Regions from separate parts of the Homo sapiens genome. Here region 2 is linked to region 1. The links come from fine-mapping of genetic effects on gene expression. Tissue or cell type: whole blood. Region 1 holds a variant in brackets; the other region holds the start of a gene. All regions are shown on one strand. Distances are between the middles of the regions.

The links. PIP is the estimated chance that this variant, and not a neighbour inherited with it, causes the effect.
Region 2: CFAP92 starts here. The variant in region 1 is fine-mapped to the expression of CFAP92 in whole blood (TOPMed, PIP 0.94).

Annotation. Positions count from the first base shown.
Region 1 is chr3:128,842,847-128,850,947 of GRCh38, reverse strand. It overlaps MIR12124 (microRNA 12124), which reads right to left and starts at 4,140; the gene lies at 4,040-4,140. It also overlaps the pseudogene MARK2P17 and the pseudogene MARK3P3. RefSeq lists enhancers at 2,675-3,672, 3,673-4,670, 4,633-4,682, 4,671-5,668 and a silencer at 4,883-5,092. The variant C/T (reference allele first, on the strand shown) is at 3,816.
Region 2 is chr3:128,990,688-128,998,788 of GRCh38, reverse strand. It overlaps CFAP92 (cilia and flagella associated protein 92 (putative)), which reads left to right and starts at 4,713. Exons shown (of 16, transcript NM_001394090.1): 1 at 4,713-4,809; 2 at 5,453-5,746. The coding sequence starts at 5,485. RefSeq lists a silencer at 4,498-4,707 and an enhancer at 5,284-6,045.

The DNA.
Region 1 (8,101 bases):
CGGAAGTCTTGATCGAAAAATGTTGACCCCGTAGAAGTAGCGAGTAGATCAATGGTGACCAGGGGCTGGGTATCAGGTGTGGGGGTGGGAAAGAGGGAGAGAATGGAGAGTTGTTGCTCAAAGGACCAAAGTCTGAGATGGACAGGAAGAAGAGGTTTTCACATCCAGTGCACAGCAGGGTGACCAGAGTCAATGAGAATGTATTGCGTATTGCAAAACACCTGAGGGAGTCCATGTCAGTCAAATGTCTTTCTGTACTTAGAATGGAGAGGACGAAGGCCCTGAGGTCCAAGAACACTACAAACATGACAGGTCAGCCACGTGTGGGCTCCAACGGCCGCATGGGAGAACTGGGCAAGACACCCTCGCTGCTGTGTGTCTGACACCCCCAGCCTGGAGGCCTTGTCCAGTGGAGGACAGAAGTGTGTAAAGTGGCAGAGGGGTCTCTGCATGGGATTCAAATCAAGTAAGCTTCTGGTAGCCGTGTGGCCTTGAAAGCATTCTTATCCAAAGGAAGGGGTGAGATGGACCGCCTGGAGCCTCCTGGACATCAGAGGGCGCCTCCATCCCACCTAGTGGAATGTAAAAGCCTGGACAGTGTTTCCTGGGGCACTTCTCCCCTGCCCTGCTCTTCTCTGTCTTTTCTTCATCCAGATGGTTCTAATTTGGCTCATGTTAGGGTAGGAGAGAAGATATGGCCCAGGGCACTGTCTCTTCCTCCTGTGTGCTCCTGCTTCCTCTGCCCTGCCACCTCCTTCTCCCCTAACCCCGCCCAGGTCACTGCAGTCCTCTCTCCATTTGGAGGCAGCCAGAGTGATAGTGCAGCCCCCCGGGAGGCCATGGCCGGGAGCTTTGTGGGCAGCAGCCAACGGAGTGCCAGAGGCACTCGACCTGCCCACGGGAGCAGCTTCCATTTGTTCACACTAATCCAGGGCGTGCCCTCACGGGGTAGCTGGGGAGCACAAACTGTGTGCACTTGGATATCCTCCAGGGATTCTGCAGAGTCTAAAGGGGACGGTGGAGGGGAAGTGTCCTCTGGCTGTGCCCCTGAAGTCTGATTGTGCCTCCGGGGTCTGCACACAGCCGCAGAGCAGGGGATGACCACAGGGCCTCTCTGGGGACACCTCCTAGCTGCCCCCACATGGCCACTGATGCACCCAGGGCCTCAGGTGTGATTCGACAGTCACTGGCCCGGGTCCCCTCAAAGCAAAACGGGGGCTCCAGGGTGGGCAAGGGTGAGGGTGTGACCCCAGAAGAGTCATGAAAGGATAAGGAGGGGAGTGGCTCTTAGTTTCTGGGCACACCCCTCCCCTCTCCTGTGCAAGGGAAAATGATAGAGGGAACATGGCAAAGGAGACCAGGCTCTGGAGAGGGCTCTCGGTCTCCACCCTCCCCAGGCAGCCTGTGCGACTCTAGCCTAGTTATTGGAGTTGGCGTTGTGCCTCAGTTAGCATAGTTCAGAGGTAGGATTTGTAGTCAGGGTAGTTAGGAGGCACCACGGAGGAGGGATCAGCCTCCAACGCACTTGATGAAGAGATCCAAAAGTGTAGGATCCTCAAGACCATCGGCCAGGGCACGTTCGGTGAGGGCACACTGGTCCAGCATATGCTGACAGGGACCCAGGTAGCCATGGAAATCATCCCGAAGAAGGCTGGCTCCCCCGCATCACTCTCCAGAGAGGTCAGTATCACGGAGACCCTCAAGCGTCTGAACATTCAGCTCCATCAGGTGACTGACACCATAGACACCGACTATTTGGAGATGGAGTGCGTCGGACGAGGACAGCTGCACCACCAGATATGCCACCACAGCCACATCGAGGAGGAGGAGGAGGCCCACACCCGGTTCAGGCAGATTCCGTCAACACTGCAGGACTGCCACTTAAAGAACATCTCACATGGAGACCTAAAGCCACAAAACATCCTACTGGATGAGGATGGCAACATCAAATACCTGGACTTTGGCTTCAGCACCACACTTACGAAGTGTGCCAGCCTTTTGTGGCACGTACCCCCTACGTGGCCCCAGAACTCTTCCTGGGCCAGGGGTGTCAGTGCCCGCCGTGGAGGTATGCTTAGAGTAATGCTACACCACATGGTAGCCGGGGCTCTGCCCTTCTACTCTATGCACATCAAGAACAAAATAAACAGGAAAGTACACATTGCCTCCATTTTTCTTTTCATTTCAAATAGATTTATTAAAAAGTTACTAACACTAGACCCCAGGGTGTGACCCCCACTGGAACAACCAATGAGGGACCCGTGGGTGGACAGTGGCCAGAAGATGCTACTGACTTCATACCAAGAATGACTCCTGAACTACCCGAACCCCAACAACGCAGCTCATGGTGGCCATGGGATTCCAGGCCAAGAGCATCTCCATGTCAAAGAAAAAACATTCAACTATCGCATGGCCACCTGCCTCATTTTAGAGTGCACAAAAAAACAGAAGAGGAAGCGCTCCACCATCAGAGCACCCTCCCTTCCTCTGGGGTTCCCACCTTTTCTTCCCCAGCCCCCAAAGTTTCCACCTTCTGGGAGAAACTGAAGAGGGCTCAGAGCGAGCCAGCTTTTGAGACTTTTAAAATTCAGCTGCCCGAGGAGGGCCAGAAGTCAGGACAGAAGACCACCATTCCTGCCAGTGCACCTGCCGGCCTGCAGAGGAAGCCAGCCATTTCCAGTGAAGTCCCCCAGCATGACTCCATGGCCTCTCCCTCCAGCCAGAGCACCAGCAGCAGTGGGTCCCTGGCTCAGTGACAATCATCACAGGAAGCCAGCGTCCTCCAAGCTGGGCAGCCCAAAGCTGTGATGTCGCCTCGCTGTCAAGAAGCTGGGGCTGCCGCAGGGCCGCCAGGAGATGCCTTTCAATGCTTTTAAAAGTATTATGTGTGTGTCCACCGAAGAAAACAAGCAAAATGATTGCCCCGACATAGTTGGATGGCTGAAGACAAAAATCGAGTAGGTGGGGCAGTCAAGCCGCACTTCCTGCATTTTACTGCATTAAGGCCCTGAGGTTCAAAAATATTAAAAACCTGTGACATGTTGGCCATGTGTAGACTGCAACAGCTGTGGGTGGGAGGCAGGCAAGAGGCCAATGCTTCCATGTGCCCAGCACACCCAGCCCAGTGGCATTCAGCAGAGGATGGAGGTGTCCAAGTTGCTGCCGGGGTCAGTGAACATGATTCTAGTCAAGACGGCATCTGGCAACCCTGCGGCCTTCAAAGGCCTCCTATCCAAAGCTACGGATGAGCTGAAGGACAGCATGACACCTCCTGGAGACCAGAGGGCCCCTCTGCCCCACCTGGTCCAGGGCACCATCTCTTCCTCCGGTCTGTCCCCTGCTTCCTCTGCCCTGCCCCCTTCCCCTTCCTCCCTGCCCAGCTCACTGCCATCCTCTCTCCACCTTTCCAAGGTAGACATAGCTTGCTGCTCTCCTGAGGCCCCACTAAGGCTGTGACTCTGGTCCCCGCTATCCTCTTGGACTTTATTTCCCTGGCACCCTCCACACCTCCTTTTTGTTTGTCCCAGCCCCGCCCCCAACTCCCTGTCCCCCAGCTCCTCCTCTCCCATTCCTAATCCCCTCATCCTGATTCCTTTTCTCCTACATCTTCTCTAGCTAAATCATCTTTCCTTTACATGCTAATAATCTGCCCTTCTGTCCCCTAGATGTCTGCCTTGTGCAACATGGAATGATGAAAATCTAGAAACTGGAATCTAACTCCTGGCCCTAGTCAGGACTCAGGTTTTGTGAAAGGGAGAAAAAAAAAAAAGCAACTCCCCATCAAAACCAATACCTAGTCTAGAGCCTGATATAAG[C/T]GCCACTCAAAACATGTTTCCTTCCATTATTCTTCTATAGCCAGGTAACTATTCCTAAAATAGAAGCCCCTGAGACCACTGAGAAGCATTGCAGTGTGGAGTGACAAGGGTCTGAGAGCCGGTCTTACTGTCCCTTGTCCCCCAATCACAGTTAACATGAAGCCGAACTCCAGAGAAGAGCCAGGCCCATAGGGCATTTAGATTTTACTCCAAGTCTAATTCCCAGTCCAGTGCTCCTGCCTCCAGCATCTGCATTTCCTCTGTCCGCCTGGCCGAGGAAGGGGTGCGTGGCAGAGTGCAGAGCATGGGGAAAGAAAGCGAGGCCCACGGGTAGCCCCAGGAGGGCGGTGCGATGCATTCAGCTCTCGCCCCCTGCCTGGGTGCAGGCCTCCAAGTGGGTCTTCCTGTTTCTCCATCTTCTGAGGCCCAAAGCTTCCTCAGAGCCTCCGTGGGTCCCACCCCCGCACCCATCACACGGTGTCTGGGCCCTGCCTGCCTGGCTCACATCCCCACCCCCACCCGCTGCCCTAGTTCCATCCTGGGACAGCCCACTGGGCACTGCGGTTCCCCCTCTTAGAAGACTTTCACAGGCCCTGCCTGTCCCTTTTGCCAATCAAGTGAATGTCATCTCCTCAGAGAAGCCCTCCCTTAGCACCCCATCTGCAGTAGGGTCACCCCCATCTTCCATCATCACTTTTCCTGGTGTTTCCTTCCTAGCCCCTGTCCCTACTGGGAGTTTTCTGTACTGATAGACCAGTCTCTCTCGCCCACCAGGGGGCCAGCGTGTCTGTCTTCTCTGTCCCAGCACACTGAATGATTATTTGTGGGCATAAATGAAATGAAGGCCCCCGAGGTGCTGTGGCCCTGGTGCAGCCACGTCCCGGCGGGCGGCACTGAGGAAGGACAAGCTCCAAAACCCAGGGCTCCAAAGGACCCATGGAAGGTCGGGAGGCTCAGAGGAGTGACCCCGCGGCTGGGCCAGCGCTTTGAGGCCCGTAGGGACCCAGCTGATAGGGCTTGGGTGAGACCTCCGGAGGCGCTGAGCGGGCCGGGAGCCGCGGGACCTGCAGAGGGCGCCAGTCCGTGTGGGGGCAGCAGCGCCAGAGGGCCCTTGGCCTTGGCCTTTGGCGGTTGAGTGTGGGTTTTTGGCGGTTGAGGGCGGGCAGTTGGCTGTTGGGCACCCCGCCCCTGCCGCCTGGCCCCGCCCCTGTCTCCATGGAGACCCGAGGCTACCCAAACGGCATCTCAGCCCTGCCAGGCAATCCAGGACTCCCAGCTGAGCCTGCAGCAGGGCTCCTCCCGAGGGGCTGTGCATGTTTCCCCGGGGTGGGGCTGAAGCCAGAGCCCGGAGGTTTGCCCGTGGGGCACGGATCCCCCTGTCACTCGCCCCCACGGGCTGCAGTGAAGGAGGCTCTGATGGGAGGATTTCCAGCTCCTACCCTGCAAGGATATGAACCCCAGGGAAGGCATTCCTGCTCTGGGGACTGCCTCCCTCCCCAACATCAGAGCCAGCCATCGCAGAAGCTAGGCCAAGCTGACCACTCTTGTCTGTGATCTCTGCTAGGGAGGCTGAAAGAACATCCAGCCCCACCCGTGGTTCCTTTCTGCCTCAAGCTATATGACAATACGACACCTTATCTATTTTTTCATTTCCACTGGAGACACTAGTAAAACAATTCCTCACCCTCAGCCCCAGGGAGCGGCCCCCACTAAACCAGCTGATGTGGAATTCCTGGGTCAATGCTGGCCGGGAGGTGCTGCTGACACCATACAGAGAACCTGGGCACCTGCGCCCCCTACAGCCCTGGTCATGGTGGCTAGGGGATTCCAGCCCGAGAACATCTCAGTGTCAACACTGGAAAAGAAATCAACTCTCCCATGGCACATACCTCGTTTTAGAACACACAAAAGAACAGAAGAGGAAGCGCTCCACCATCAGAGCAATGGCCCTTCCTCCTGGGGTTCCCATCTGTCCTTCCCCGTCTGCCAAAGTTTCCACCTTCCCAGCAAAACCAAAGGGGGCTCAAAGCAAGCCAGTATTTCCTACTTGTCATTTTCAGTTGCCCAAGCAGGGACAGAAGTCAGAGAAAGTCAGATAAGAGTCTTGTTTCCCCCAAGAGAACAGGACTAGGAAGCCAGAAGCGGGTTGGGGACCAGGTGGGAATGCTGTGGGCCCCCTTGTCTCCCCAGTGTGCTGCTGTCCTTAAAATCCACTTTGGGAGTGAGGGTCCTCCAGGTGTCAATACTGAATCTCCCTCCACCCAATGCCAGTTTGCAACCCCAGACGGGGTCCCTGTGGGCTCTGCTTGAGCTCCCGAAGGGCCGGCCCCTCAGAGTCTGTCTTCCCCACCTTGCTGCCATCCACCCTCGGGAAGTGCCAGCCCTGTGAGAGGAGGCGCCCTCCCCAGGCCTGGCTTCCACTGGCACTGGACAAGGCCATAATTGTTTCTGGCCCATGACCTGTGGTACAGCCTGACATCTCTTCTCTGGAAGCCAGGGCTCCAGGCTCAGCCAGCTAGGCTGGATCAAGAGACCATAGGGAAGTGGCTTCAGGCACCAGAACAAAGCCCACAAAGAGAAAGCCCCCTCCAGTATCAACTCATGCCAGGCCTCAGGAGCCGTGTGGCCCTAGGTACAGGCCGGGCAACCTTGGCTTGTTCACCTCCCTTTGCGGCAGCGTAGCTAGGAGGCACCATAGAGCCGGGATCGGCCTCCACCTCACCTGGCAAAAAGATACAAAACTATGGGATCCTTGACACCATCCGCCAGGGAACTGGCCCGGCATAGGCTAACTGGGACCCAAATTGTCCTCCAAATCATCCCTAAGAAGGCTGGCCTTGCTCTCTAGAGAGAGAGATGAGTATCATGAAGACTCTCTATCACCCAAATATCATTCAGTTCCACCAGGTGACTGACAAGGTGGAAACCATGTATGTGGTGATGGAGTACGCCAGAGGAGGAGAGCTACAGCACCAGATATGCCACCAAGGCCACATCGAGGAAGAGGAGGCCTGAACCATGTTCAGGCAGATTCTGTCAGCCCTGCACTACTGCCACTTGAAGAACATCACACATCCACACACAAAACATGCTACTCAATGAGGAACGCAATATAAAAATCATGGACTTTGGCTTTAGCATGACATTCGGGGAGGCATAGATGCTGAAAACATTTTGTGGCGCGCACCCCTACGTGGCCACGGAACTCTTCCTGGGCCAGGAGTGCCAGCGCCACCATGATTGTATGGAGCCTCCGTGCCACACTGTATTCCATGGTGGCCGGGGCCCTGCCCTTCTACTCAGGGAACCCTACAGGCCTCAAGAAAAAATGATCAGTGCAGAATACCGTTCACCACAATTTTTTTCCCCAACGAATGGAAAGACTTATTAAAAAGTGACTAATGCTGGACCCCAAGGAGTGTCCTTCACTGGAACAAGTGATGAAAAATCCATAGGTGAAAAGTGTCCAGAGGTTGCCAGTCACACCACACCAAGAGCCACTCCTGGACCACCCGAACCCCAAACAACCCAACTTGTGGTGGCCATGGGATTCCAGGCCAAGAACATCTCAGTGTCATCAATGGAAAACAAATCAACTATCCCAAGCAACCTCTCATTTTAGATCACAGAAAACAACAGAAGAGGAAACACTCCACCATCAGAGCATCGTCCCTTTTTCCTGGGGTTCCCACTGTCCTTCCCCATCTGCCAAAGTTTCCATTTCCCAGTAAAACCAAAGAAGGCTCTAAGCAAGCCAGTATTTCCTACTTATCATTTTCAGCTGCCCAAGAAAGGCCAGAAGTCAGAGAAAGTCAGATAAAATTCTCCTTCCCCGCAAGAGAAAAGGACCAGAAAGCCGGAAGCAGGCTGGGGACAGGCTGGGAGTGTTGTGGGGCCCCTTGTCTCCCTAATGTGCTGCTGTCCTTAACATCCACTTTGGGGGTAAGGGTCCCCAGGTGTCAATACCGAATCTCCCTCCACCCAGTGCCAGTTTGCAACCCCAGAGAGAGGGTCCCTGTGGGCCCTGCTTGATTTTCTCAAGGGCCCCTCAGAGTCTGTCCCTCTGCCTTGCTGCTGTGCCCCACTGGAAGTGCCCGCCCTGTGGGAAGCAGGCCTGGCTTCCATTTGCATCAGACAAGGCGAGAGTTGTTTCTGACCTGTGACCTGTGGTAGAGCTTGACATCTCTTCTCCAGAAGCCCAGGGCTCCAGGCTCATTGAGCTGGGCTGGGTCAAGAGACCACAGAGAAAGGGGCTCCAGGCACCAGGGCAAAACCCACAGACAGAA
Region 2 (8,101 bases), 150 kb before region 1:
GCACAGGAACTGAGCTTTGTAAACAGCTTGGCTGTGGTTTCTTTGCAGACACTGCTCCAGAGGCTGCTCTGTGCTCCCTGGGGATGAACTATAAGGTGCTTTGTCATCCCCCACAGATGCCCACTGAGGTGGTTTTCAGCTTTTCTCCGCAAAAACCATACTGTGAACAGTTTGTGCCATATCTTGAGTGATTTATTACTGGGCCAAGGAGTATACATATTTTATAAGCTTGTGGTATTATCAGCCTGTTTTTTGGAAACTTGTGTTGTTCTATCCAGAGCCCAGAACTGTCTGGGAATGTCCTTGGGCCATTATTTTCAGTGTCATAAAGCTTTTGGGTTTTTAGGGGTCTTGGTTAGTAGATTTGCTTAGTGTTCAGACACCAAGCTTTACTTCTATTAAAAATAGGCCTGTTGTTAGTCAAAGATTTCTTAGATACGACACCAAATGCATGATCCAAAAAAGAAAAAAATGATGAATCGGACCTTCATCAAAGTTCAAAACATTTGCACTTCAAAAGACACTATTAAGAAAATATGACGAACAAGAGACTAGGAGAAAATATTTGTAAAACATATGCCCAGTAAAGGACTTATATTCCGAATTTACAATGAACTCTTAACAACTCAGTAACAAGAAGACAAACAATCCAATCAAAAAGTGGGTGAAGATACAAACAGACATTTCACCAAAGAAGTTGTATAAATAGCCAACATGTGCATAAAACAATCTCAGTATTCTTGTTAGGGAAATGCACATGAAAACTATGATGAAATACTATATTATACTCATGAGAATAGCTGTAGTGAATAAAACAGGCAATAAATCTTGTCAAGAATTTGGAGAAACAGGAAACTTCATGTTGTTGATGGGAACACAAAATGATGCAGCCCCTGTGGAAGATAGTTTGGCAGTTTCTCAAGAAGTTAATCACAAAATGACCATACGACCCAACTCTTCCACTCCTAGATATCGACCCAAGAGAGATGAAAACACATCCACACAAAGACTTGTGTGGGAATGTTCATAGCAACGTTGTTCATAAATGTCTAAATGCCCAAGCCAAATGCCCATTAACTGATGAATGGATAGGCAAACTGTGGTCTGTCCATACAATAGAATATTATTCAGTCATGAAAAGGAATGAAATACTGACACATGCCTCAACATAAATAAACCTTGGAAACATAACGGTAGGTGAAAGAAACCAGTCACAAAGCCAGAACACAGTGTCTGACTCAATTTATAGGAAATGTCTAGAAAAGGCCAATTTTTAGAAACAAAGTAGATATGGTTGCCTAGGACTGGGAGTTGGAACAGAGATTAATTATAAATGTGCATGAAGTCTTATTAGGGGGATGAAAATGTTCTAAAATGAATTTATGATGATGATTACAGCACTAGGTAAAGTTACTGAAAATCATTGAATTCTACGCTTGAAATGGATGGATTTTATTAAATAAAAAATACTTCAATAAAGCTGTTAAAAATGGGGAAGGGGCAAGAAGAAGGTGTATGTAGCTGATTCCCAATATGCTTCCAGCTGCCAGAGTCTTGGGATAGCTTCAGGAAGGCCTCTACATAGCCTGTGGGAGCTTGGGAACCCTCCACCCGGCAGAGTAAGGATGAAGGGATGGATTGTTCAGTGACCTTGAACACCTCCTGCCCCTGGATGCTTGTCCCTCTGCTTACCAGATGTACAGTCCATGTCTTCATCCCCTTGAAGTGGGGCCAGCCTCATGACTTGCTTTGGTTAATGGCATGTAGCAGAGTGACATGGTGCTGGTTCCACGCCTAGGTCCCAAGAGGCCTTGCAACTTCTTCTTTGCCCTCTGGGATCCCTGCTCTGAGAATGCCATCTGAGGAAGCCAGGCCGGGCTATGAGGAGATGAGGCACCACATAGAAGGAAGCTGGTGTACCACTGGGGGCGGGGGAACCCATGGAGGGGAACCAGCGGGCCCACGAAGAGCCAGCAGCAACTGCCAGACATGCAAGTGAGGACTTCTGGCAGCTTCCAGCCATGTTGGTCCTCCAGCTGAGCACAGCATAGGGAGTGAGCCCAGGCGAGGCCAGCAGAGAACTACTCAGCTGATGCATGGAGTGGTGAGAAATAACAAGTGTTTGTTTGACACCATTAAGTTTGGGGATGGTTTTTACTCAGTAACAGATAACTGAAACAGAAGCCCCCCTTCCTTTGCTTCTGATCTGCCAGCCCTGAAGCCATCTTCACTGAGGTAGGGTTGTAGACCCACCACTGTCTCATACCTGAGTAGTGGGTAGCACACCTTTGCCCTCACTTCATCCTGTGATGCCCTAGGTCTTGACCCAGACACCATCTCTCTCAGGGCAGTGGTTCCATATTCTGGTTGTGCAATACAATCTTGGTGGTAATTTAAAAATATGGCTCCCGTTCCTATTATTTATTGCACAACAAATCACCCCAAAACTTAGTGGTTTAAGAGAGCAACAATTTGCTTATAAATCTACAATTTCTCATGATGGAGACAGCTTGTTTCTGTTCCTCAATGTCAGCCAGGGTGGCTCAAAGACTGAGGGCTGGGATCATTTGAAGTCTTGCACTCTCATATGTCTGGGGGTTGAGGCTGCAATTGGCTGGGAACCGTCAGTCACAACAGTTTCATGTGGCCATTTCACATGGCTGCTTGGGCTTCCTCACAACATGCTAGCTGGATTCCTAGCATGAATACTATACCTCAAAAGAACAGGGCAGAGGTAGATGGAATTTATATGACCTGGCCTCAGAAATCACATAGTGTCATTTCCTCTGCACTCTTTTGACTGAGCCAGTCACAGAGGTCTGCCCAGTTTCCAGAGAAGGAGACTAGACCCCCCAACTGGGTGGGAGGAATGTGAACCTCACAATGCCTGCCGGAAGATTATGTGGGAGGGGATCTTTTGAGGTGGCTGTCTTTGGAAAATACAATCTGCCACTGGTTTCTAAGCTCCACCCCTGGAGAGTCACTTCCACAGGTCTTTAATGAAGCCTCAGAATTGTATTTTTGACATGTAGGTGTTTCCAGTGCACATCCAGGATGGCACATTGGCCCTTGGTCCAAGACCTCTGGCCTCTCACTATTGAGCTTGGGAAGAGATTGGCTTCTGTCCTAGGTGGTGATGTGATCTAGGAACCTTTGGAGGGAAACCAGCCTCAGGCCAGTGGGTAGGACCTGGGGAGCAGGAGGCCTGATGTCTGTCCAAGAGTGGTGGTAGTGTTGAACTGCCCTTGTTAAAGGGCCCTTTTGGGGGCTGGTGTATCTGAGTAGCTTTGTATTCTTCCAGCCCTTCATGTGTCTCCTGAGCACTTCCTGGCATACAGACAGCAGTCTCCAGGCTGCTGCAGGTGGGGTGTGGGCAAGGTGGTTGCCGTTCTCGTGCTAAGAGTTTGAACCCACTCCTCACAGGGCCCACTGCCATTTGGTGTCTTCCCTAACAGCTGTACTTGAGGCTGTTTTTCAGACTGAACCCGAGGAGTATTGGAGCACCCAGTATTAAAGGGGCTGTCCCATGCCCTGAGAGCGGTCTGGGGAGGCATGCACTGGGAGGCTCAGGACTTGGGTCTCAGCCCCAGCTGCGCCACAGTTTTGCTCTTTGACACAAAGTAGGTCATAGCTCAACTCAGCTAAAGTTTTCTTAATAGCCAAGCTTGTGTGTAGCCTCAGCTCCCATTCTCTTGAACAAACTGACTGCCGGAGCAGGGTGCCCTCCCTCAACAGAAGACCTGCCTTGGCTCCCCATTGCCCATAGTCCTGTGCCCTAACCTGCCCTGTGGGGCTATGTACCATGGGCCCTGCACACTGCTACAGCCTCGCCACCCATTCCTGAAACTTGCCATGCCCTTTCACCTCTATGGGCCTTTGCATATGCTGTTCCTCTACCTGGGATGCTTTCTCTTGCTTTCACCGCCTCTGCCTAGTCACCCCCCAGATTTGGCGTTGCTCACTTCCTCCATGAGGCCTACCCCAGCCCTCTGTCCCAGCCGCTTGCTGTGCTGAGGTCCTCTACATTAGGAGCCGCAGCCAGGGCTCTCAGCTTGGGTGGTTTAGCAGACGAGCGGAGGCTTTGGAGTCAGGCAGTCCGGATTTCAACACAGTGCTGCGCCCTACTTGCTGTGTGACCTCGGGCGAATCGCTTCACCTCTCTAAGCTTTGTTTTCTGATCTCTGAGTTGGCGCTCATGATCACTAACAAGAATTCTCATGCTATTTTAAGGACATCAGCGACAGAAGCAGAGAATCTAATGAGAGGGATCGTGGGGAGGTCTGGTTTTTAAGGACATCGGCGACAGAAGCAGAGAATCTAATGAGAGGGATCGTGGGGAGGTCTGGAGTTTGCAGAGCCCACAGCTTCCTTTGCTTTTATTAAAGAATGGGAGGTGGGAGCTGATGGAGGGGGAGGAAGGAGCCATCAACCCCTACCTCCCATCGTACGGGCAAGGACCAGGCTTATAGTAGGTGCTGACGTTCCGAGTAGAAACTCCTTAATGAGTGAATGCATGAGTGAAGGAATGAAGGCAGCTGGTTTCTGAACCTGGATGTAGCCATTTGACAAACTGCGCGCAGTGGCTGAGGGGGAAAGCCCCGCCCCGCGGAGCCCCGCCCCCAGGCCGCACGCCCTCGCGTCTCCTAGCAACCGCCAAACGTAGCTGAGTGGCTGGGCCTGCGGCCCTCCCTGCACCGGCGGACGCTCCTCTCAGTCTTGGAGTCTCTTCGCCCAGGTGGCTGTGGATCCGGTACGGGAGTTGCCGCCGCGGTCCAACTCCCCGCTGCCGCCCAGCGCATCCGCTCGCAGGTACCGCCAGCACCTGGAGGGGAACCCCGACCCCTGCCCCCACCTCGGCCGCCGCAGCCCGGGACTCTTCCCGCCTCGCCTCGATGCGTGTTCCCTCTTCGGCGTTTGCCCGGCGTTCCGCCTCCATGGGCCTGAGCTGATGCCCCGAGCCCAGCACCCAGTGCACATTCATGTTCTGTCTTGGGGACAGGGCTTGCCCTCCCCGACCTCGCCAGGCTCCTGCACGTGCTGCCCCCGGCCTGGTTTGCCTCTCCCCAAATAGCAAACGCATCTTGTGCTTAGGCGCAGCAGGCCTGCCTGAGCAGACGTCCCCTCTCCCGCCTGGTGGCTCCCGGGAGCTGCTCACCTGGGGCAGGCATTCCAGAAGCCCGGCGACTGACTCCTGGTTAGGCGAAGGAAACGGGGTTGCTCGTCGTCGTGCTTACTGCCAGCCACCCTTATCTGTTGTTCCTTCATCCATTCATTCTCTAAGTCGATTGAGTACCGACTGTGTGGCAGGCAGTGAAGGAGCCCCGGCGTTCATCTAGGAGCAGGCGGGGGAAGCAGGGAAGAGAAGGGTGGGTGCTTCTGCAGGAGGCCGGGCTTACCTCCTGGAGCAGCCCTGGAATACAGGCGGGGACAGCCTTCACTTTCTCCCTGCCAGGAGCGCCGGCGGCCAGCAGTGCGCTCTGCAGCATGTCGCTACATGCCTGGGAGTGGGAAGAGGACCCCGCAAGCATAGAGCCCATCTCCTCCATCACTAGCTTTTACCAGTCCACGAGCGAGTGTGACGTGGAGGAACACCTGAAGGCCAAGGCCAGGGCCCAGGAGTCTGACTCTGACCGCCCGTGCAGCAGCATCGAGTCCTCATCTGAGCCTGCCAGCACTTTCAGCTCCGACGTGCCCCACGTGGTCCCCTGCAAATTCACCATCTCACTGGCCTTCCCTGTGAATATGGGTAGGTGCTAGAGCAGAAGTTTAACACCCTCTGAAAAAAGGAGGTGCATGACTTTCTGCAGGAGTTTAGGGCGCATACACCCCACATCCTCTCTCCACCTGCCCCACCCCAAAGCGGGCTGGCCAGTGCCAGCCAGGAGCAGAGGTTGAAAAGAAACAGCAATTTTAGGAGAGGCCCAACTGTGGCTGCATCAGCTTCACATACTTAATCCTCTCAACAACCCTAAAGCAGGTGATGTTCTGTCTGCTTTTTACAGAAGAAAAAAAAACCATGGAGAGGTTAAGGCATTGATTCTCATAAGCGCTTGTGCATCACCTAATACCTTGTTTAAAATACATTTTCCGGGAGTCTGAGGCAGGAGAGTCTCTTGAACCCCGGAGGTGGAGGTTGTGGTGAGCAGAGATCACGCCATTGCACTCCAGCCTGGGCAACAAGAGCAAAACTCTGTCAAAAAAAAAAAAAATAATAATTCTTTTTTTATTGAGATGGAGTCTTGCTCTGTCACCAGGCTGGAGTGCAGTGGTGCGATCTCAGCTCACTGCAACCTCAGCCTTCCGGGTTCAAGCAATTCTCGTGCCTCAGCCTCCCAAGTAGCTGGGATTACAGGTGCACGCCACCACACCCATCTAATTTTTGTATTTTTAGTAGAGACTGGGTTTCACCATGTTGGCCAGAATGGTCTCGAACCCCTGACCTCAGGTCATCCTCCTGCCTCAGCCTCCCAAAGTGCTGGGATTACAGGCATGAGCCACCGCACCCGGCCAAAAAATACATTTTCTCTGATCTGTTGAATCAATCTCTGAATGTAAAGGTGTATCAATTAGCTATTGCCACAAAAATGCGGTGCAACAAACCCAAACAAGCCCCCAAGCTCATGGCTGCACACAGGAACCTGAGGTTCTCCTGGAGGTGCTGGGCGCTGGTCTAGGCTGGGTTCTGCAACAGCTCAGCTCTGCTTCATGCTGCTCCTTTTCCTCCTGGACCAGTGGGCTATCCTAGACCCCTTCTTGTTCTAGAAACACGGACACACAGGAGGGCAAGCCTAGCCCCACAAACACTCCTCAAGTCTTTGAGTGTCTCCCACCTGCTAGCATTTTATTGGCCAAACCAAGTCACATGGTTCCAGCCCAATATGAGGGGAGGAGACAAGTAGTACTTCACATCTTGATAGACCTTGCTTTGTTTTGTTTTCATCTGCTTACTTGAACTAGCCCACCATTATGATTTCAACTTCTCCTGGTATTCTGTCGATGGTGTAAGTTTCTTGTATGGGTTGGAACCCCGAGAGCGCACCAACAGACAACACGAGGCGGTGTGGAGCAACATGCTGTTTCAATGAACGCCTTGGTGCAGGCCGGCTGAGGCCTAAAATGGCGTCAGCCCCAAGTGAGGACGGGGCAAAGGTTTTATAGTCTCCTGTAAACAGGAAGTGTCCTAGTCTGGCGTAACTGCTACGCTGTACCCGGATGGCCTCTTTCTCATCTTCATGTCTTCCGGCCAGGGTAGGTGTATTCCAGCCGGCTCTCCTCCTGCTTCTGCTATTTTGCTGGTGCACGCTGCTGACGTAAGTGACCTTACGCCTTGGGACTAGGCTTGAGAAGGGAGGAGTTATTCATCTCCTTAAGCTTTCAGGCCCTGGGGAGAGTCTTACAGATGGTTGCTTCAGCTATTTTGGAGGCCGACTGGTTGGGTGTATAGTATGTTTAGAACTGCTCCATCTTCTTGGTGAACTGAACTTTTTGTCATTTTATGGTGACCATTCCTGTCTAAAATGATGCCTTTACTCTTGGGTCTATTGCTATAAAGCAAAAGAGCCTGGAAAAAGACATCTGGCAAATACCAACCAAAAGAAAATTGGCACTTGACCTCCTTTAGCCCTCATCTCTTTCACAGCATCTTCTAAGCATGTTTTTGTTTTTGTTGTTGTTGTCCTCTAAAGGCATTTATAAAATGGATCTCTGTGGGGCAAAACTTCATGAGACCTTGTGTGCCTAAGAGTATTTTTTTATCATGCCAATACCTTTAAATGACATACCTTCGGCTCTACATAAAATTCTAGTTTAATTTTTTTTTCCTTCAATACCTGAGTATTTACAGATGAGTACATAAATGTTTCTTTATATAAATTATTTATTTATTTATTTTTGAGACGGAGTCTTGCTCTGTTGCCTAGACTGGAGTTCAGTGGCACAATCTCGGCTCACTGCAACCTCCACCTCCCAGGTTCAAGCAATTCTCCTGTCTCAGCTTCCCAAAGTAGCTGGGACCACAGGCACATGCCACCACGCCCAGCTAATTTTTGTATTTTTAGTAGAGATGGGGTTTCACCATATTGGTCAGGCCGGTCTTGAACTC